Linked DNA regions of Homo sapiens: region 2 is linked to region 1. The links come from fine-mapping of genetic effects on plasma protein levels. A gene starts in region 1. The other region holds a variant in brackets. All regions are shown on one strand. Distances are between the middles of the regions.

Region 1 (14,268 bases):
AACAGTGGGGATTGCCAGGGAGGGGTGAGGAAAAGGGGCATGAGGGTTGAAAATCTAACTGTTGAGTGCTGTGCTCACCATCTGGGTGACAGAGTCGCTCATACCCCAAACCTCAGCATCATGCAATATACTCAGGTAGGAGACTGGCACAGGTATCCCCTGAATCTAAAATAAAAGTTGATAAAGAGGGTCCCGGGCGCGGCGGCTCACAACTGTAATCCCAGCACTTTGGGAGGCCAAGGCGGGCAGGTCGCTTTGAGGCCAGGAGTTCGAGACCAGCCTGGGCAACATGGTGAAACCCCGTCTCCACTAAAAATACAAAAATTAGATGGGCGTGGTGGCGGGCACCTGTAATCCCAGCTACTTGGGAGGCTGATGCAGGAGAATCGCTTGAACCCGGGAGGCGGAGGTTGCAGTGAGCTGAGGTCGCACCGCTGCACTCCAGTTTGGGCAACAGAGCGAGACTCCGTCTCAAAAAAATGAAAAAATAAATAAAAGTTGATAAAGAGGGCTGGCCATGGTGGCTTATGCCTGTAATTCCAGCACTTTGGGAGGCCAAGGCAGGCAGATCACTTGAGGCCAGGAGTTTGAGACCAGCCTGGGCAACATGGTGAAACCCCATCTCTATGAAAAATACAAAAATTAGTTGGGCGTGGTGGTGTGTGCCTGTGGTCCCAGCACTTTGGGAGGCCGAAGTGGGTGGATCACTTGAGGTCAAGAGTTCGAGACCAACCTGGCCAACATGGAGAAACCCTGTCTCTACTAAAAATACAAAAATTAGCTGGGTGTAGTGGCGCGTGCCTGTGGTCCCACCTACTCAGGAGGCTGAGGCAGGAGAATTGCTTGAACCCGAGAGGCGAAGGTTGCAGTGAGCCGAGATTGTGCCACTGCACGCCAACCTGGGCAACAGAGTGAGACCCTGTCTCAAAAAAAAAAAAAAATTTAAAAAGTTGAAAAAGAAAAACAATGCATGAAACCAAACACATAAGATAGGCACATTCTACTGTATGTAAATTACACATCAACAAAATGGATTTTTCAAAAATCACTGTTTCTGGGATTTTATTAGATAGCATTTGGTACAAAATTGAGGTCAGTAGAGCTCAGTTTTACTGGTAGAAATCAGAGGAAGTTAAAGGATTTTATGTTTTAGAAGAGAATTAAGGGGCATATTGCCTTTTCCTGCTACTGAACCAAGAGTTTTCAAACTGGGTCCCTAGGGAACCCTAGAGGTTCCATGCCTACCCTGCTTTCTCCTCAATCTGTCATCACAGCTGCCCACTCCTTTTGTGTCGTTCAAAAGGTTTTACCCGAAGAGTTCTGAGAACAAAGGGTTTGAAAATCAGAGCTCTCAAAAAATGATTTTTCTTTTTCTTCTTTTTTTTTGAGACGGGATCTTGCTTTGTTGTCCAGGCTGGAGTGCAGTGATGCCATCATAGCTCATTGCAGTCTCAGCCTTCCTGGGCTCAAGTGATCCTCACACCCCAGCCTCCTCAGTAGCTGGGACTACCAGCATGGACCACCACACCCAGCTAATTTTTTTCCATTGATTGATTGATTGATTGATTGAGACCAAGGCTCACTCTGTCGCCCAGGCTGGAGTGCAGTGGTGCAATCTCAGCTCACTGCAACCTCCACCTCCTGGGTTCAAGTGATTTTCCTGCCTCAGCCTCCCGAGTAGCTGGGATTACAGGTGCCCGCCACCACGCCCATCTAATTTTTGTATTTTTAGTAGAGACGGGGTTTCGCCATGTTGGCCAGGCTGGTCTCGAACTCCTGACCTCAGGTGATCTGCCCACCTTGGCCTCCCAAAGTGCTGGGATTACAGGCGTGAACCACTGCGCCCGGCTTTTTCCCTTTTATCTTTGTAGAGATGGGGTCTTGTTATGTTGTCCAGGCTGGTCTCAAGCTCCTGGCCTCAAGCGATCCTCCTGCCTCAGCCTCCCAAAGCACAAGGATGACAGGCGTGAGCCACTGCACCTGGCAATAACATGGTTTCTGTCTCTTTTCAAGCTACCCTTTGTCCAGGGTGTGTCAAAGAGTAGCTCAAGAAGAGACAGAAGTCATGTCTTCAAGGAGGCAGGATGAGCTGGGACTTGAGCATGGGGAAATATCTGGACAAAAACGGACTTGAAAGTTCCTGCTAGGACCAGAAGAGACAGGGAGCCTGTGGAATTCACTTTTCCCCTCTAGATCCCCTGTCCCACAAATTTGCTTTCAGTTCCTCTAAATACACACACTCCATTCTGCCTCAGGTCCTTGGAACATGCAGTCCTCTCCCTCCACCCAGAAGGCCCTCCCTAACTGCCTCTCCTGGTTAACCCTTCTGCATCCTCCACCCTCCCTTCAAACATCTTTTCCTCCCCCCAAAATACTTTCTGGATTCCCCCATGTGGGGTTGATTTTTAGGTCAGAGGTTCTCACGGAAAAGGGTTCCTCTCCTTGGGAGATGGAAGGGTCCTTGAGGCTGATGGCTGATTGAGCATTCTATTGGTGTTTTTTGTTGTTGTTTTTTTGTTTTCTTTTTTTTAGAGATGGGGTCTTGCTCTGTTGTCCAGGCTGGAGTGCAGTGGTGCGATCATAGCTCACTGCAGTCTCCAACTCCTGGACTCAAGCGGTACTTCTGTCTCAGCCTCCTGAGTAGCTGGGACTACAGGAAGCCACCACCATCCCTGCCTAATGTTTTCTTACGTTTTGTACAGAGGGAGGGTCTCACTGTGTTGGCCAGGCTGGTCTTGAACTCCTGGGCTCAAGTGATCCACCCACCTCGGTCTCCTAAAGCACTGGGATTACAGGTGTGAGCCATGGCGCCCGGACTTTTTTTTTTTTTTTTGAGATGGAGTTTTGCTTTTTGTTGCCCAGGCTGGAAAGCAATGGCACAACCTTGGCTCACCACAACCTCCGCCTCCCGGGTTCAAGCAATTCTCCTGCCTCAGCCTCCCGAGTAACTAGGATTACAGCTACCCACCTGGTGTGCCACCACGCCTGGCTAATTTTGTGTTTTTAGTAGAAAAGGGGTTTCTCCATGTTGGTCACGCTGGTCTCGAACTCCCGACCTCAGGTGATCCACCCGCCTCGGCCTCCCAAAAGGCTGGGATTACAAGCATGAGCCACCGCGCCTGGCCCATTGCCCGGCCTTTTTATTGCTGTTCTGTTGGTGTCTGCCTTTCCCTGACTGACAAGGGCCAACTCGTCCCGGGCAAGGGCAGCATCCCTCTGCTTCTTAGTGTATGCATGGTGTTTAACACAGCATATGGAACATAATAGTTGCTCAATAAATATTGCCTGCGCTTTGAACCTGTGTGCACCGTTGCATTTACACAGGGCTTTAATACACATGCATCATGTTGATTGAAATATAAATACATAGAGAAAATTGTGCAAATGAGAGTTACAGCTGAAAACTTTTACAAAATTCCCCCCTCACTAGGGGCCTTCCTGGTATGCTTTTATCACCACTATCTCTGATTCCCCAGGACTCTTCCATCGTCATTTCCGACAGCATAAATTAGTTTTGTTTGTATTTCATTTATTATTATTATCATTATTGTGAGACGGAGTCTCTCTCTGTTGCCCAGGCTGGAGTGCAGTAGCATGATTTCAGCTCACTGCAACCTCCACCTCTTGGTTCAAGCGATTCTCCTCCCTCAGCATCCCGAGTAGCTGGGATTACAGGCACCTGCCGCTACACCTGGCTAATTTTTGTATTTTTAGGTATTTTTTTTTTTTTTTGAGACGGAGTCTTGCTCTGTCGCCCAGGCTGGAGTGCAGTGGCGCCATCTCGGCTCACTGCAAGCTCCGCCTCCCGGGTTCACACCGTTCTCCTGCCTCAGCCTCCCGAGGAGCTGGGACTGCAGGTGCCTGCCACCACGCCCGGCTAATTTTTTTGGATTTTTAGTAGAGATGGGGTTTCACCGTGTTAGCCAGGATGGTCTTGATCTCCTGACCTTGTGATCCGCCTGCCTTGGCCTCCCAAAGTGCTGGGATTACAGGCAGGAGCCACCGCGCCCGGCCCCCTTTTTTTTTAATAAATGGATTTGTATGGTATGTTCTTTTTGGGGTCTGGCTTCTATGCTAACATATGTTCGTGAGAATCAGCCACATGGTTGGGTGTAGCTGTAATCCATGGACAGTTGTCTCATTCTCACTCATCACCACATACCAGGGGTACAAAAAAATGTTTTCTGTAACGAGTCAGATAGTAAACATTCTCAGCTTTGGGGGCCCTACTGTCCAACCACTCTACAGCTGCTGAGCTCTGCCATGGACATGTGATAGCAGTCACTGATGATATATTAAAAAATGGGGCCAGGTGCAGTGGCTCATGCCTATAGTCTCAGCACTCTGGGAGGCCAAGGCGGGCGGATCACTTGAGATCAGGAGATCGAAGCCAGCCTGGCTAACATGGCGAAATCCCATCTCTACTAAAAATACAAAAATTAGCCGGACATGGTGGCGCACCTGCCTATAATCCCAGCTACTCGGGAGGCTGAGGCAGGAGAATCGCTTTAACCCGGGAGGCAGAGGTTGCGGTGAGCCAAGGTCGTGCCACTGCACTCCAGCCTGGGTGACAAGAGCGAGTCTCCCTCTCAAAAAAAAGGGGGTAGCAAACTGTGTGTGTGTGTTTGTAGGGACAGGATCTCACTATGTTGCTCAGGCTGCCCTCAAACTCCTGGGCTCAAACAATCCTCCTGCTTTGGTCTCTCAAGTAGCTAGGATGACAGGTGCCTGCCACTGAGCTTGGCAATTTTTTTTTTTTTTGAGACAGAGTTTCGCTCTTGTTGCCCAGGCTGGAGTGCAAGGGCACCATCTTGACTCACTGCAACCTCCACCTCCCGGGTTCAAGCAATTCTCCTGCCTCGGCCTCTCAAGTAGCTGGGATTACAGTCGCGTGCCACCACACCCGGCTAATTTTGTATTGTAAGTAGTGATGGGGTTTCACCACATTGGCCAGGCTGGTCTTGAACTCCTGACCTCAGGTGATCCACCCGCCTTAGCCTCCCAAAGTGCTGTGATTACAGGCATGAGCCACCGCACCCAGCTGACAATGTTTTAAGAAAATTTTCTTTATGGACTTTTTATGAAAATTATATGAATTTGAATTTTATATGATTTCTATTTTCACTAAACATTACAAATATTTTTTGGCTAGGCACAGTGGCTCATGCCTGTAATCTCAGTGCTTTGGGAAGCTAAGGTGGCAGGATCTTTTGAGGCCAGGAGTTTGAGACCAGCCTGGGCAATAGAGTGAGACCCCACCTCTACAAAAAAATTAAAAAAATTAGTTAGGTGTGGTGACACATGCCGTAGTCCCACCTACTCAAGAGGCTGATGAGGGGGGGATTGCTTGAGCCCAGGAGTTTGAGGCTGCAGTGAGCTATGATTGCACCATTGCACTCCAGCGTGGAAAACAGAGCCAGACTGTGTCTTTTTTAAAAAAAAAACAACTTTTTTTTCCCTATGGTTTAAAAATGTGAAAATTGGCAGTGCCTCAAAAAGTTAAACATAGAATTACCATATGATCAGGCAGCACTACTCCTGGACATACGCCCAGAAGAATTGAAAGCAGGAGCTGCAAACAGATATTTGCACATCTATGTTCAGAGCAGCATTATTCACAATAGCCAAAAGGCAGAAGCAGGCCAGGCACAGTGGCTCACACCTGTAATCCCAGGACTTTGGGAGGCCGAGGCAGGCGGATCACTCCAGATCAGGAGTTTGAGACCAGCCTGGCCAACATGGCAAAACCCCATCTCTACTAAAAATACAAAAGAAAAAAAAATTAGCCAGGTGTGGTGGTGGCACATGCCTGTAATCCTGGCTACTCGGAGGCCGAGGCAGGATAATCACTTAAACCCAGGAGTCAGAGGTTGCAGTGAGCCAAGATCGTGCCACTTGCACTCCAGCCTGGGTGACAAGAGCGAAACTCTGTCTCAAAAAAACAAAAAACAAAAACCTTTTAGATCCGCCATCTGTGGTGGAGCCGCCACCAAAATGTAGATTTTCCTGAAAACCCTTACAGGGAAGACCACCACCCTCGAGGCTGAACCCTCAGATATGGTAGAAAATGTAAAGGCCAAGATCCAGGGTAAAGAAAGAATTCCTCCTGATCAGCAAAGACAAGCACTGGAAGATGGGCGTACTCTGTCTGACTACAACATTCAAAAGGAGTCTCCTCTTCATCTTGTATTGAGAATTCGTGGTGGTGCTAAGGAAAGGAAGAAGTCTTTTTTTTATTTTTTTTGAGATGGAGTCTCGCTCTGTAGCTCAGGCTGGAGTGCAGTGGTGCAATCTCGGCTCACTGCAACCTCTGCCTCCCGGGTCCCAGTTCAAGCAATTCTCCTGCCTCAGCCTCCCGAGTAGCTGGGATTACAGGCACGTGCCACCACGCCCAGCTAATTTTTGTATTTTTAGTAGAGACAGGATTTCACCATGTTGGCCAGGCTGGTCTTGAACTCCTGACCTCGTGATCCACCTGCCTCGGCCTCCCAAAGTGCTGGGATTACAGGCCTGAGCCACTGAGCCCGGCCAGAAGAAGAAGTCTTACCTGCAAGACGAATAAGCACAAGAGAAAGAAGGTGAAGCTGGCTGTCCTGAAATATTATAAGGTGGATGAGAATGGCAAAATTAGTCACCTTCGTCGAGGTTGCCCTTCTGATGAATGTGGTGCTGCAGTGTTTATGGCAAGCCACTTTGACAGACATTATTGTGGCAAATGTTGTCTGACTTACTGCTTCAACAAACCAGAAGACAAATAACTGTATGAATTAACAAAAGACGGCCAGGCGCAGTGGCTTACACCTGTAATCCCAGCACTTTGGGAGGCCGAGACGGGCGGATCACAAGGTCAGGAGATCGAGACCATCCTGGCTAACATGGTGAAACCCCGTCTCTACTAAAAATACAAAAAAATTAGCTGGGCATGGTGGCGGGCGCCTATAGTCCCAGCTACTCGGGAGGCTGAGGCAGGAGAATGGAGTGAACCCGGGAGGCGGAGCTTGCAGTGAGCCGAGATCGTGCCACTGCACTCCAGCCAGGGCAACAGAGTGAGACTCCATCTCAAAAAAGAAAGAAAACCCACAAAAGACGTGAACTAACAAAAACAAACAAACAAACAAAAAAACAAAACAAAAGCTGGAAGCAACCCAAGTGTCCATCGATGGATGAAGGAATAAACACAACGTGGTTCATCCACACAAGGGAATGTGATACAGCCATGGAAAGGAAAACAGTTCTGACTCAGGCTACAGCAGGGATGAACCTTGGGGATATTATGCTCAGTGAAATAAGCAGATACAAAAGGACAAACACTGTGTGATTCCACTCCTAGGAGGTCCCTAGAGTCATCAGATCCATAGAGGCAGAAAGCAAGATGGAGGGTGCCAGGGGCTGGGGAGAGGGATAGGGAGTGAGTGTTTCATGGGGACAGAGTTTCAGTTTGGAAAGAGGAGAAAGTTCTGGAGATGGACGGCAGTGGTGGCTACATAACAACATGAATGTGCTTATTGCCACAGAATTGTGCTCTGAAAAATGGTTAAAATAGGCTGGGCATGGTGGCTCACACCTGTAATCCCGGCACTTTGGGAGGCTGAGGCGGGTGGATCACTTGAGGTCAGGAATTTGAGACCAGCCTGGCCAACATGGTGAAACCCCATCTCTACTAAAAATACAAAAAATTAGCCGGGCATGGTGGTGCACGCCTGTAATCCCAGCTACTCGGGAGGCTGAGGCAGGAGAATTGCTTGAACCCAGGAGGTGGAGGTTGCAGTGAGCCAAGATTGAGCCACTGTACTCCAGCCTGAGCAACTGAGTGAGACTCTGAAACAAAGAAACAAACAAAAGCAATGGTTAAAATGGAACAAGATGGTGCATACCTGTAGCTTCAGCTACTGGGGAGTCCAAGGTGGGAGGATTACTTGAAGCCAGGAGTCTGACACTAGCTTGGGCAACATAGCAAGACCCCGTCTCAAAAAAAAAAAAAAAAAGGCCGGGCACGGTGGTTCACGCCTGTAATCCCAGCACTTTGGGAGGCCAAGGCGGGCAGATCACAAGGTCAGGGGATCGAGACCATCCTGGCTAACACGGTGAAACTCCATCTCTACTAAAAAAAAAAAAATACAAAAAATTAGCTGGGCGTGGTGGCAGGCGCCTGTAGTCCCAGCTACTTGGGAGGCTGAAGCAGGAGAATGGCGTGAACCCAGGAGGCGGAGCTTGTAGTGAGCCGAGATCGCGCCACTGCACTCCAGCCTGGGCGACAGAGCAAGATTCCGTCTCAAAAAAGAAAAAAGTAAGTTATAATGGTAAGTTGTATGTTATATGTATTTTACCACAAAAAGGCCCGTTGTACTGGAAACAAAGAACAAATAAAAATGTAATAACCATTCCAAGCTCATGGGTGGTCCAAGAAGAAACATGAGCTGGACCTTGGCCCATGAGCAATGGCTTTCCAACTTCTGTTGCAGGTGATGCCATTGATGGAATAAACCATGATTTTTCTTTCTTCTTTTTGAGATGGAGTCTTGCTATGGTGCCCAAGCTAGTCATCCAGGATGGAGTGCAGGGGCACGATCTCAGTGCACTGCAACCTCCACATCCCGGGTTCAAGTGATTCTCCCACCTCAGCCTCCCAAGTAGCTGGGATTACAGGCACACGCCACCACGCCCAGTTAATTTTTGTATGTCTAATGGAGACAGGGTTTCATCATGTTGGCCAGGTTGGTCTCAAGCTCCTGACCTCAAGTGATCCGCCCGCCTTGGCCTCCCAAAGTGCTGGGATTACAGGCGTGAGCCACCGGCCATAAACCATGATTTTATTTACCAGTTCTATTGCTCATGGGCATTTGGGTATGAATGTGGTATGTCATTCTCACCCAGAGACATAATTATTATTACTATTTTAGAGAAGTGGTCTTGCTCTGTTGCCCAGACTGGAGTGCAGTGCTGTGATCATAAGTCACTGTAGCTTCGAACTCCCGGGCTCAAGCAATTCTCTCACGTCAGCCTCCTTAGTAGCTGGGACTACAAGTGCTTGTCCGCACCATGCCTAGCAAGAGGCATTAATTTTGTCATGTTTGCATCAGCCACCCTTGCATGCAAAACTCTGCTTGTCTACCTGTTCCTCAGACCACAGCCCCTGGCATTATCCCTGGGGCACCACCTCCTGACCAGTCTCTGGACATGAAGACGGAGGCCCTGTTGGAAGTGGGAAGGCTCCCTTCCTCCTCCAGCCCTTACTGTCTGCTCAGGGGCTTCCTCTTGGCCCCGGATGTGGGACCGGAGGGTTGGGGGCCCAGGGACTTATTAGCCAAGCCAGGAAGCCCCACCCCAAGAGGCCTCAAAGAAAGAGCTGCGGTGCAGGAATTCGTGTGCCGGATTTGGTTAGCTGAGCCCACCGAGAGGGTAAGTGACAGCTGCTCCTGCGCTTGCCATGGCACCAGCGGGGAGGCTGGGGTCAAGGCTGAGCCTCCATCCCTGTCCCCCACATGGGGGGACAGGGGTCCAGGTCCAGGGGCAGATCCTACTCCCTCCATGGGCCGGATCTTCCCCACAGGGCAGGGCTGATCCAGCTGTGGGTCTCTTGGTTCCCTCTTTCAGCGCCTGCAGGATGAAAGCTCTCTGTCTCCTCCTCCTCCCTGTCCTGGGGCTGTTGGTGTCTAGCAAGACCCTGTGCTCCATGGAAGAAGCCATCAATGAGAGGATCCAGGAGGTCGCCGGCTCCCTAAGTGAGGACCCCCCACTTGGGCAAGCTCCCCAAGGGTCTCAGAGACCTCACTGATCCCTGGCACAGACCTGACTCCAACCCAGCCCCAGCGCTCACCAAATCTCATCCTCAAATCCAACCAGATCATAAATTCAACCCCAACTCCACTCCCAACCCCTCCGACTGTCCCCACCTTATCCACGGCTCCAAACCCAATCCCCGCTCTCACTCCAAACCTTCCCTTACTCCAAAACACCCAACTCAAGACAGGGTCCTGGAGGCCAGTGAGCTCCTATGCCCACAGGGACCTAGCTCCAAACCAACAGGGCTAGGGGAGGATGGGGGAGGGACCGTTTGGTCTCACAGCTCCCCCTGTCTCCTTTCCTCCTGCCCCCCAGTATTTAGGGCAATAAGCAGCATTGGCCTGGAGTGCCAGAGCGTCACCTCCAGGGGGGACCTGGCTACTTGCCCCCGAGGTGAGTGCAGGAGACTGTTGTCCAGGCGCCCATTTCTGTTCCAAGTCCCCTGGGAATGCCCCCTCCCCGCCACGTTCCCCGTGTCCAGCCTCTACTCCCCTAGGATCTTGGTCCTGACTCCCAGCCTTCTCCGCCCACCATCTGGACACTGGTGTCCACCCTCACTCCCTGCCTCCAGTGCCCATTCAGTGGTTGGAGCCTCCAGCCGTCCCCGTCCCCACCCCCGCCCCCCCAACCCCCCTCCGCGCTCCCCACCCCCCTCCCGCTCCCACCCTCAGCCTCCCAGCTCAGAGTCCACGCTCCTGTGTTCCGGGCTGCAGGCTTCGCCGTCACCGGCTGCACTTGTGGCTCCGCCTGTGGCTCGTGGGATGTGCGCGCCGAGACCACATGTCACTGCCAGTGCGCGGGCATGGACTGGACCGGAGCGCGCTGCTGTCGTGTGCAGCCCTGAGGTCGCGCGCAGCGCGTGCACAGCGCGGGCGGAGGCGGCTCCAGGTCCGGAGGGGTTGCGGGGGAGCTGGAAATAAACCTGGAGATGATGATGATGATGATGATGATGATGATGGAGCGGATCTGAGCCCTGCGTGGTTTCTTTAGTAGGCCCGGAGGGACTGATCTAGCGTCTCCAAGAGAGTGGGGCGCGTAGCTGCTGGAGGGGGCGGGGACACCGCGACTTTCTACTGCCCCATCGCCCTTCCTCCTATGGGGTCTCCAACTGCTTCCTCCGAAAATAGGGCCTGAACTTCCTCTAGTGACGTCCCCACCCAAGGCTCATGGCTGCCTTCAAGAGGTGACGTCTCATCTTTGAGGCTACCTTGACGCTCACCCTGGGGTCTCCGACCTCCCCAGGAAGTGGCTGGGTCCTTTTCCCCCAGTCCTCATAATGAGGCTTCATCGAGGACCTGGGTCAGTCTGGGCAGTGGACGGGACCCTCCAGGGCCCCAAGACTCCAGGAGCCCCAGGTCAGGGTGGAACCCTGAATCATGTCTCAGCCCAGAGCTGGAACCTGTACCCCTCACTTCCTACCTGCAAGGAGGAATCCCCAAGGCACAGGCAAAGTTGGGTTACGGAGAGTCAGGGACGCCTACCTGACGTCACGCATCATCACAAGCTCACGTTTTCACACAGGCAAGTGCAGTTGTGAGTAGTTAGTTACAACCAGATACACGCAGGGTGCTTACCCCTTCCTGGATACTAGATTATGAAAACACAGAGCAGGGGACTTGTCTGCTCCTAGATCCCCCCCAGGGTTTCGTTTCTTCCCTTCCCTTCCCCTCCCCTCCCCTCCCCTCCCCTCCCCTCCCCTCCTCTCCCCTCTTCTCTTTTCTTTCTTTCTTTCTTTTTTTTTTTTTGAGACAGGGTCTCGCTCTGTTGCCCAGGCTGGAGTGCAGTGGTGCAATCTCGGCTCACCGCAACCTCTGCCTCCTGGGTTCAAGCGATTCTCCTGCCTCAGCCTCCCACGTAGCTGGGACTACAGGCGCTCGCCACCATACCTGGCTAATTTTTGTATTTTTAGTAGAGAAGGAGTTTCACCATGTTGGCTAGGTTGGTCTTGAGCTCCTGGCCTCAAGCGATTCACCCGCCTCAGCCTCCCAAAGTGCTGGGATTACATGCATGAGCCACCGCGCCTGGCCTATTTTTTAATTTTTATTTTCGAGACAAGGTCTTACTCTGGCGCCCAGGCTGGAGTGCAGTGGCACAATCTCGGCTCACTGCAACCTCTGCCTCCTGGGTTCAAGTGATATTCCTGCCTTAGCCTCTCAAGTAGCTGAGATTACAGGTGCCCACCACCATGCCCAGCTAATTTGTATTTTTAGTAGAGAGCGGGTTTCACCATGTTGGCCAGGCTAGTCTCAAACTCCTGACCTCAGGTGATCCACCCACCTCGGCCTTCCAAAGTGCTGGGATTACAGGCATGAGCCACTGCACCCAGCGCCCCCAGGGTTTAGAATAGAGCATGGAACACAGTAGACGTTCAGTAAATGTCTGTTGATCAGTAGCCACATGTGCACTTAGATACAGCACCGACGTGCACATACTGCACATGCACACACAGCTATACACAGCCACGTGCACACACAGAGTACACAACCCACCTACCACGGCCACATGGAGACACCACATCCACAGACACACCCATGTGCCCCTAGACACTCTTGGACACAGAAAGGCACCACCCCCCCGGCCAATGCACGGAGAATCGCAGATTTGACTATGGTGGGCAGAGATGATGCAGGACACAAACACACACATGCTCCAGGCAGACTCTTGCATTTCTGACTCTAGTCCCCACTGCACCTGGATAAGTATCTGATACCCTAGTGCAGCGATCCCCAACCTTTTTGGCACCAGAGACTGTTTTCATGGAAGACAGTTGGTGTGTGTATGGGGTAGGGGGGGAGCGGGGATGGTTTCTGGGTGATTCAAGCGCATTACATTTATTATTCACTTTATTTTTATTATTATGACATTGTAATATAGAATAAAATAATTCTACAACTCACCATAATGTGGAATCGGTGGGAGCCCTGAGCTTGTGTTCCTGCAACTAGATGGTCCCAGCTGAGGGTGATGGGAGACAGCGACAGATTACCAGGCATTTGATTCTTATAAGAAGTGAGAAAGCTACATCCCTCAAATGCGCAGTTCACGATGGGATTCTTGCTCCTATGAGAATCTAATGCTGCTGCTGGTCTGACAGGAGGTGGAGCTCAGGTGGTAATGCGAATGATGGGGAGTGGCTGTAAATACAGATGAAGCTTCTCTCGCTCGCCCACCACTCACCTCCTGCTGTGAGGCCCCGTTCCCAATGCCCGGTGGCTGGGGACCCCTGTTCTAGTGGGCAAAAGCCTCAGCATCCCCCGCCTCAGCTCCCTGGGGCACAAATTCAGGTGATTCGGGGTCCAGTTCTACAGGAAGCCTGACCCAGGAGTCTTGCCATCCAGTCCCTGATTTCCCACCACAGACTTCAGAATTCCTAGCACCTAGTCTTGAAAGGGATCCCAGACTCAAATGTCACACCTGGACAACAGATGATAGAGTGAGGTTCTGGTTTGCAGGATGTTTTGGACTCTCCTCCCACTGCCACCCACCCCCTGTGATGGTCCCAGCCCCCTGTCTGATGCTGGTGGCCATGAGCAGAGATTACAACCACTTCTGGTGCCAGGGACCCCACCCAGACTCCAGCCCAGGGATTCCCTTCCCAGACCCTCTCTCCTGACTCCACAGTGGTCATGGGGGTAGGGCAGGACCACTGAGTTAGAAGCATGGCCAGGGCCAGAGAGGGTGAGTCTAGTGCCTTGTGTGTGTCCCTGCCCCTTACTGCTGTGTGTGTGTGTTGGGGGCGGGGATGCTCCATTGTCCCCAGAACTATTTGTCTCCACCCCCATCCAATAGTCCTGTATCTGAAACCTAAGAGGGCTCTCTTCAGGTTCCTCAATTCCAACATAGACATTCTCCTGCCCCAGAGTGCAGACTTGGAGGTCATATCTGCCCAGGTGATGTGGACAGGCAAACCCCCTATTAGAGCCTCAATTTCCTCAATAGCTAATGCCTAGATCCCCTGTGGTAGGCAAGATATCCTCCTCCCTCCTCCCTCCTCCCTCCCTCCTTCCTCCTCCTCATCCTTCTCCTCCTCCTCCTTCTTCTTCTTCCTTTTTGAGATGGAGTCTCACTCTGTTGTCCAGGCTGGAGTGCAGTGGCACGATCTCAGCTCACTGCAACCTCCACCTCCAGGTTCAAGTGATTCTCCTGCTTCAGCCTCCTGAGTAGTTGGGATTGCAGGCGCCCACCACCACTCCTGGCTAATTTTTGTATTTTTAGTAGACACGGGGATTTCGCCATTTTGGCCAGGCTGGTCTCAAATTCCTGACCTTAAGTGATTCACCTGCCTCGGCCTTCCAAAGTGCTGGGATTACAGGCGTGGGCCACAGAGACCAGCCAAGGCAAGATTCTTCTGCTTGCAAGTACAACAGACCCCACTTCAAACTAGCTTGGGCAAAACTAAAAGGAAGTTTCTTGTTTGTGTAACTGACAAGCCCAGGGTTAGAACAACAGGTTCAGGTATGGCTTGGAACCAGGGTCTCAAATGAT
Region 2 (7,975 bases), 16 kb before region 1:
GACAGCGGGGCCTGTGCTGGGGAGCCTCACTTCCTCCCCACCTGCCGGCTGCCTCCGCTATATCTCTCTAGTCTGTTCCCCTGTCCCGCAGGAGTGCCCCTGAGCCCCAGCCCTGGCCTTCCCAGGATCCCAGGGCAGCACCATCCAATGGCAATGGGCCTGGGGCGGCTTCCTGGCTTCCTCCTTGTCCCTCTAAGAGCCCCGGCCCCTCTTTCTGCGTGGGGGCCAGAGACCTGGGCCTCCTCATCCCCATGGACCTTGAATACCTGGACTTCTGGGGCTCTGAGGGGCTGAGAGCCCAGACACTGGGTTCCCCAAAGGGCTGGGGGTATTGACTGATGGTCCCCAAGGGCCTGGAGGCCCAGACTACTGGGTTGCCGAGGAACTGTGGGTTTAGACTTCTGGGTACCCAAGGAGTTATGGAATTAGATTCGTGGGTCCCCAGTGAGTTATGGATCTAGATTTCTAGGTCCCCAATGGACTAGAGGCCTAGACTCCTGGGTCCCCCAGAGGCAGGAGGTGGAGATGCTGGTTCCTGTCTGCCAGGATCTTGGCCCCTGAATACCCCGTGGGGGGCACTCCTGACCCCGGACCCCATGCCTGGGGTTCCTCCCCTAACCTGCCTCTCGGCCGCCAGGACGCCGTGGAGGACCGGCTGGACAGGAACCTGTGGCCCTTCGTATCCGACCCCGCCCCCACGGCCAGCTCCCAGGCCGCTGTCAGGTGAGGCCCCGGGGCCGCCCCCGCCCACGCCTGGGTCTGTGTTAGGTGGGCGGCCTGGCGGCGGTGAGGGCCTCCTGCCTGGACTTTCTGCCCCTGCCCTGCACAGTGCCCGCTTCGGTCACTGGCACAAGAACAAGGCTGGCATAGAAGCCCGGGCGGGCCCCCGGCTCATCGTGTATGTCATGGGCGGTGTGGCCATGTCAGAGATGAGGGCCGCCTACGAGGTGACCAGGGCCACCGAGGGCAAGTGGGAGGTGCTCATTGGTAAGTCACCAGGACTGGGACCCTGGGGTCTGGGGCTTGGGTTCCCGGGGCCTGGGCTTGTACCTTCTAGGTGTCTGGACTCCAGAGTCCTTGGAGTCAGGGACCTGGTTTGCTGAGGGACAGGGACAGCCCCACACCAGCCGGGACCGGGAGCCTGTCAAAGACGAAGGCAGCGCCCCCCAACATCTTCCCCAAACCTCTGCCCCTGCACAGGCTCCTCACACATCCTCACCCCGACCCGCTTCCTGGATGACCTGAAGGCACTGGACAAGAAGCTGGAGGACATTGCCCTGCCCTGACCCCTGGCCCCGCCCCCTACCCCTCCCTTTCCAGAGAAATAAACTCTTCCCGTCGCTCTGCCAGCCAGTGCCTACCTCACCTTCTTATCAAGGGAGTCCCTGGGAGTTGTGCTGAGCCAGGCCTGTGCCCCAGGCCCCACCAACCCCTATTATCCTCTCAGAAGGAGAATTAGCCTCTCCCTGCCCCTGAGGGCATCTCAAGCCCTCATGGAGGTTAAGAACTTGGACTTTTGGCAGGGCACGGTGGCTCACGCCTGTAATCCCAGCACTTTGGGAGGCCAAGGCGGGAGGATCACTTGAGGTCAGGACTTCAAGACCAGCCTGGCCAACATGGTGAAAACCCATCTCTACTAGAAATACAAAACAACTAGCTGGGTGTGGTGGTGTGCACCTGTAGTCCCAGCTACTTGGGAGGCTGAGGCAGGAGAATCACTTGAACCCAGGATGTGGAGGCTGCAGTGAGCCGAGATTGCCCCTTTGCACTCCAACCTGGGCAACAAAGCGAGACTCCGTCTCAAAAAAAAAAAAATTGGACTCTCATTTGAATATCAGCTCTAAGATATTCTAGCGGTGAGGCCCTGACCAACTTCCGGGGTTCCCAATCTAAAAACAGGGAGCCCAAAATAGCAGCTGCTTTGCAGAGGAGAGAACAGAGATAGCGCAGGAAGGCTGGTGGCGTGCAAGCATGACAGCTGCTGCTACCCCATTTTCACTGGAACCATTTTGGCTGCTCCGTTAATATTGTTATTAAGCAGAATGGACCCTGGAACTCCAACCCCCCTAGAACTGTTCCAAGGGGACCTGTAGGCATACGATGCCAGGAGTTGTGTTCAGCTTCTGCTGTATTCATGTGAGGCACACAGCAAACGCTCCCTGCTTTCTCCTCCCAGCCCCACGGGGTTCACAGAGACTCCTGACTGCAGGACTTATCAGGGCCTTCGGTGGGTGTATCTGTTTGCTAGGGCTGTCATAACAAAGTACCACAGACTAGGTGACTTAACAGAAATTGCCAGGCACCGTGGCTCATGCCTGTAGTCGCACATTGGGAGGCCAAGGCAGGTTGATCACTTGAGGCCAGGAGTTCAAGACTAGCCTGGGCAACATAGTGAGATCCTGTGTCTACAAAAAAATAGAATTAGCTGAATGTAGTGGTGTGCACCGTGGTCCCAGCTACTCAGGAGGCTGAGGTGGGAGGATCATTTGAGCCTGGGAGGCAGAGGTTGCAGTGAGCCAAGACCGTGCCAGTGCACTCCAGCCTTGGGTGACAAAAGCGAGACCTCCATCTCAAAAACAAAACTATAATCCCAGCACTTTGAGAGGCTGAGGCAGGTGGATCACCTGAGGTCAGGAGTTCAAGACAAGCCTGGCCAACATGGTGAAACCTTGTCTCTACTAAAAATACAAAAATTAGCCAGGTGTGGTGGTGGACACCTGTGGTACCAGCTACTTGGGAGGCTGAGGCAGGAGAATTACACTACGCCTCCTTCGGGAGGCGGAGGTTGTAGTGAGCTGAGATCGCACCGTTGCACTCCAGCCTGGGCAACAGAGCAAGACTCTGTCTCAAAGCAAACACATTTATAGTCTTCTGTTTCTAGAGACTGGAAGTCCAAGATGAAGATGTCCACAGGTGTGACTCCTTCTGAAGCTTCTCTCCTTTCCTTGTAGACAGCTGTGTTTTCCCTGTGTGTTCACACAGTCTCCTCCCCCCGCCCCAGTGCATGTCTGTGTCCTAATCTGCTCTTCTTACAAGGAAACTGGTCATGTTGGATTAGGGCCCACGCATATGACCTCATTTTTACTTAATTATTTCTTTAAAGATTCTATCTCCAAGTATAGTCACTTTCTGAGGCAGTTGCGGGGCAGGACTTCAGCATAGACATTTGTGGAGAGGACACAGTTCAGCCCATAGCACTCAAGTGAGGTGTGAATCTCACAGCACCAATAGAACAGGAGAGGCCGGGCGAGGTAGCTTACACCTGTAATCCCAGTGCTTTGGGAGGCCTAGGTGGGAGGATCGCTTGGGCCCAGGAGTTTGAGACCAGCCTGGGCGGCATAACACGATCCTATCTCTACAAAAAAATTTTAAAATTAAATTTTTTTAAAATTTTTTTATGGGCATGGTGTCTTGCACCTGGGGTCCAGTTTACTCAGGAGACTGAGGTGGGAGATCGCTTGAGGCTAGGAGTTTAAGACCAGCCTGGGCAACATAGCAAGACCCCATCTCTACAAAAAATAAGAAAAATTAGTCAGGCACGTGATGGCACACGCCTGTAGTCCCAGCTGCTCAGGACTTTCAGGTGGAAGGATTGCTTGA[G/A]CCCGGGAGGTTGAGACTGCAATGAGCTATGATCATGCCACTGCACTCCAGCCTGGGTGGCAAGGTGACACCCTATCTCAAAAAAAAAAAAAAAAAAGAAAAAGGAAAAGAAACCTCTCTGGGGCACAGATATACAGCCAGCCACATGAGTAATCTGAGGCAAAAGGGGCTGTGGGAGCCCATATCACATCTAATCCACCCAGACTGGGGGCAATCAGGGAAGGCTTCCTAGAGGAGGCAGCATTTGCATAGAGAATGAAAATGAAGGGGGCGAAGGGAAGGGAGGGGAGGGCAGAGCAGAAGCCAAGGCCAGAGAATGCAGGAGGCCCCTGAGGAGCTGGAGGGGAGGGTACTGACCTGCAACCCAATCTGAGAACCACGTGGAGGTTCTGGTGAGGCCATGGTGAGGGTTTTGGTCCCTGCTGAGGCCATAGGACATCATAGACAGGGTCTGAGTTGGGACAGGTAGGGACCCATGTCTCATGTTGGCAGTGAAATTCTCACTGCTGGAGTGGGTGCCTGGGGAGGGGGCAGAGGGTGGGGAAGCATCCTCTTCAGAGGTAGAGCCTCTCTTACCGCCTGTGCTCAAGCGATCCTCCCACCTCAGCCTCCTGAGTAGCTGGGACCATGAGTGCACATCACCAAGCCCAGTTAATCTTTTAATTTTTTGTAGAGACTGGGTCTGGCTATGTTGCCCAGGCTGGTCTCCTGGGCTCAAGCGATCTGCCCACCTCGGCCTCCCAAAGTACTGGGATGACAGGCGTGAGCCACCGTGCCCGGCCTCTCTCCTGATTTTGAGGTCACAGATCCTTTTGAGAATTCAGGGAAATCTAAGGACACTCATCCCAGAAAAACTGCACACACAATTTGCAGGTGGGGGCTAAGGAAAATGCAGCCCCCTCTGATTCAGCAGTTCCACAATTAGGATTTATCGGAATCTCCCACCAGGGCAGGGAGATGGATGAGGAGAGTTGTGAAGGGGATGAGGTGTGGGGAAGAAAGTGGGTCGGCTGTGGACCCCTGGGGTCCGCCTGCCCTGGATATGCCTTTGCAGGGCCTCAGCAGGGACGCGTTTTAACTTACGGGAGGTGCAGGGAGTGGGAGGGAGGTGGTTTTAATGTTTAAAACTTAAGCTCAAGGTCGGGCACAGTGGCTCACGCCTGCAATCCCAGCACTTTGGGAGGGCGAGGTGGGAGGATTGCTTGAGGCCAGGAGTTTGAGGCCAGCCTGGGCAACATAGCAAATTCCTAAATATATGTATTTTTGAGACAAGGTCTCACTCTGTTGCCCAGGCTGGAGTGCAGTGGTGCGATCTCGATTCACTGTAACCTCTGCCTCCTGGGTTCAAGCGATTCTCCTGCCTCAGCCTCCCAAAAAGCTGGGATCACAGACGTGCGACACCATGCCCAGCGAATTTTTGTACTTTTAGTAGAGATGGGGTTTTGCCATGTTGGCCAGGCTGGTCTCTAACTCCTGGGCTGAAGACCTCCCACCTCAGCCTCCCAAAATGCAGGAATTAGAGGTGTGAGCCACTGTGCCCAGCCAATCTCTACAATACTCTTTTTATTTTATTTTATATTATATTATATTTATTTATTTATTTATTTTTTGGAGATGGAGTCTCGCTCCGTCGCCCAGGCTGGAGTGCAGTGGCATGATCTCAGCTCACTGCAACCTCCGCCTCCCCGGTTCAACCGATTCTTCTGTCTCAGCCTCCCGAGTAGCTGGGACTACAGGTGCGTGCCACCACGCCCAGCTAATTTTTGTATTTTTAGTAGAGACGGGGTTTCACCATGTTGGCCGGGATGGTCTCGAACTCCTGACGCCGTGATCCACCTGCCTTGGCCTCCCAAAGTGCTGGGATTACAGGAGTGAGCCACCGCGCCCGGCCAATACTCGTTTTAATAAAAATTTTAAAATGTATTCACGCCTAACTGGGTAGTTACTTGATACAATAAATGATCTTTTCTAGATTAAGAAAAAAGAAAAAAAAACATTTAAACTCAATTTCCTGGGAAGCCGCAGTTTTGCGCCGGGAGTGGCTTGTGTAGGCACGCGCTGCGAACGCCAGGGGGCGCTGCGGCGCAATTTCCCGGTTTCTTTGATCTTCCGCGTCTGTAACTGGAGATGAGGTGACCCGAATTAGACACGACGGGGAAGTAGGTCAGGGGTTATTCCGTGGTTCTCAGCGGAGACAAAAGTCTGTTGCTTAAACCGCCTCTGCCTCTGCTCCTTACTTATACCCAGGTGATGCAATGTCTTCACACTAAAGGCAAATATTGAGTCTACAAATATTTATGTGTCCCTGTGGGCGGCGGCAGCTGACAATATCGGGTCCTAACGAGCACGAAGTCAAGCTCCCTCTGCACGCTTTATGCAGATCCTCAAAACCCTCCTGTGAGGATCGCTGGAGCCTAGGAGTTCGAGGCTGCAGTGAGCTATGATTGTGCCTCTGCCCTCCAGCCTGGGTGAGAAAGCGAGAAGTTGTGTTAAAAACAAAAAAAAAGTTGGGGGGCCGGGCGCGGTGGCTCACGTCTGTAATCCCAGCACTTTGGGAGGCCGAGGCGGGCGGATCACGAGGTCAGGAGTTCAAGACCAGTCTAGCCAACATGGTGAAACCCTGTCTCTACTAAAAATACAAAAATTAGCCGGGCGTGGTGGTGGGCGCCTGTAATCCCAGCTACTCGGGAGGCTGAGGCAGGAGAATCGCTTGAAACCGGAAGGCAGAGGTTGCAGTGAGCCATCATGCCACTGCACTCCAGCCTGGGCAACAAGAGCGAAACCCTGTCTCAAAAAAAAAAAAAAAATTATCCTTTGAGATCCCTTCCCCCAAGTCCATTTCCCATCTCATGGTGAACCTGGCTGCTGTTCTTCAAACACACCACACTGTCCCTGCCCCAGAACCTTTGCACCTGCTATTCCCATCATCCGCAATGCTGTGCCTTGCAAGCTATTGTACTCCTTCCTCCTTCCCTTCCCCAGCTGGGAGAGGCCCCTGCTTTACTTCCTTGTGGTATCCCCACTTAGGGTGCTTTCTTTCTGGTTCTCTTCTGGTACCGAGGAATGATCCTCATTCTGGATTTGGCAGGTTGCTTCCTCTCTCCCCATCCCTGCCCCAATGTTTACCCTATAAATGGCTTAGAACCACATGCTCTATTGGAATAAGGGTCAGTTGCAGCCAGAATAATATCATGCTGGTAGGGCCGGGTACTTCCTGGTACATCACATCAGGGGGTCCATAACGTCATGTCACTACGATTGATGGGTGGGTTTGGGGAATGTCCCTGGTCCCCAGTAACTCTCCACATAAAGATGTTAACAGGAGCTGGGCCCAGTGGCTCACGCCTGTAGTTCCCAGCACTTTGGGAGGCCAAGGCAGGAGGATCACTTAGGCCCAGGAGTTTGAGACCAGCCTGGGCAACATAGCAAAACCCTGTCTCTACTAAAAATAAAATAAAGACCGGGCACGGTGGCTCATACCTGTAATCCCAGCACTTTGGGAGGCTGAGATGGGCGGATCACTTGAGGTCAGGAGTTCAAGACCAGCCTGGCCAACATGATGAAACCCCGTCTCTACCAAAAAACCAAAAATTAACCAGGCGTGGTGGTGCACACCTGTTATCCCAGCTACTCAGGAAGCTGAGGTAGGAGAATAACTTGAATCCAGGAGGCGGAGGTTGCAGTGAGCTGAGATCATGCCATTGCACTCCAGCCTGGGTGACAGAGTAAGACTCTGTCTCAAAAAATAAATAAATAAAATACAACAAAATAAAATAATTAGCCAGATGTGGCAGCAATTGCTTGTAGTCCCAGCTACATGGGAGGCTGAGGTGGGAAGATCACTTGAGTCCAAGAGGTTGAGGCTGCACTGAGTTATGATCTCGGCACTGCACTCCAGTTTGGGCGATAGAGTGAGACCCTGTCTCATAAAAAATAAAAATAAAAAAGGAAAGAAAAGAAAAAAAGTCATTAGCAGCCATCAATTTTGTTGTTGTTATTGTTTGTTTGTTTGTTTTTGAGATAGAGTTTCGCTCTTGTTGCCCAGGCTGGAGTGCAGTGATGCAATCTTGGCTCACTGCAATCTCCACCTCCAGGGTTCAATCAATTCTCCTGCCTCAGCCTCCCAAGAAGCTGGGACTACAAGCATGAGCCACCATGCCAGGCTAATTTTTGTATTTTTAGTAGAGACGGGGTCTCACCATGGTGGCCAAGCTGGTCTTGAACTCCTGACCTCAAATGATTCACCTGCCTCATCCTCCTAAAGTGCTGGGATTACAGGCATCAGCCACCGTGCCTGGCCCGCCATCCATTTTTGATTCATTACTCTCTTGAGGATTATGTCCAACTTTATCATTCCTGCTACTGGAATTAGCTG

The links. PIP is the chance, under the fine-mapping model, that this variant and not a neighbour inherited with it causes the effect. The UK Biobank Pharma Proteomics Project read protein levels with antibody pairs (Olink). The fine-mapping took linkage between variants from a reference panel, not from the people measured, so its PIPs are less certain.
Region 2: its variant is fine-mapped to the plasma level of the RETN protein (UK Biobank, PIP above 0.99).

What each region holds. Positions count from the first base shown.
Region 1 is chr19:7,659,723-7,673,990 of GRCh38, forward strand. It overlaps RETN (resistin), which reads left to right and starts at 9,327. Exons shown (of 4, transcript NM_020415.4): 1 at 9,327-9,399; 2 at 9,595-9,722; 3 at 10,099-10,176; 4 at 10,497-10,733. The coding sequence starts at 9,605. The coding sequence ends at 10,627. It also overlaps the pseudogene RPS27AP19.
Region 2 is chr19:7,646,525-7,654,499 of GRCh38, forward strand. It overlaps STXBP2 (syntaxin binding protein 2), which reads left to right. Exons shown (of 19, transcript NM_006949.4): 17 at 638-723; 18 at 830-987; 19 at 1,201-1,349. The coding sequence ends at 1,286. Among named protein-coding and RNA genes, the nearest start is that of STXBP2, 13 kb to the left of the region's middle. RefSeq lists an enhancer at 2,408-2,457. The variant G/A (reference allele first, on the strand shown) is at 3,601.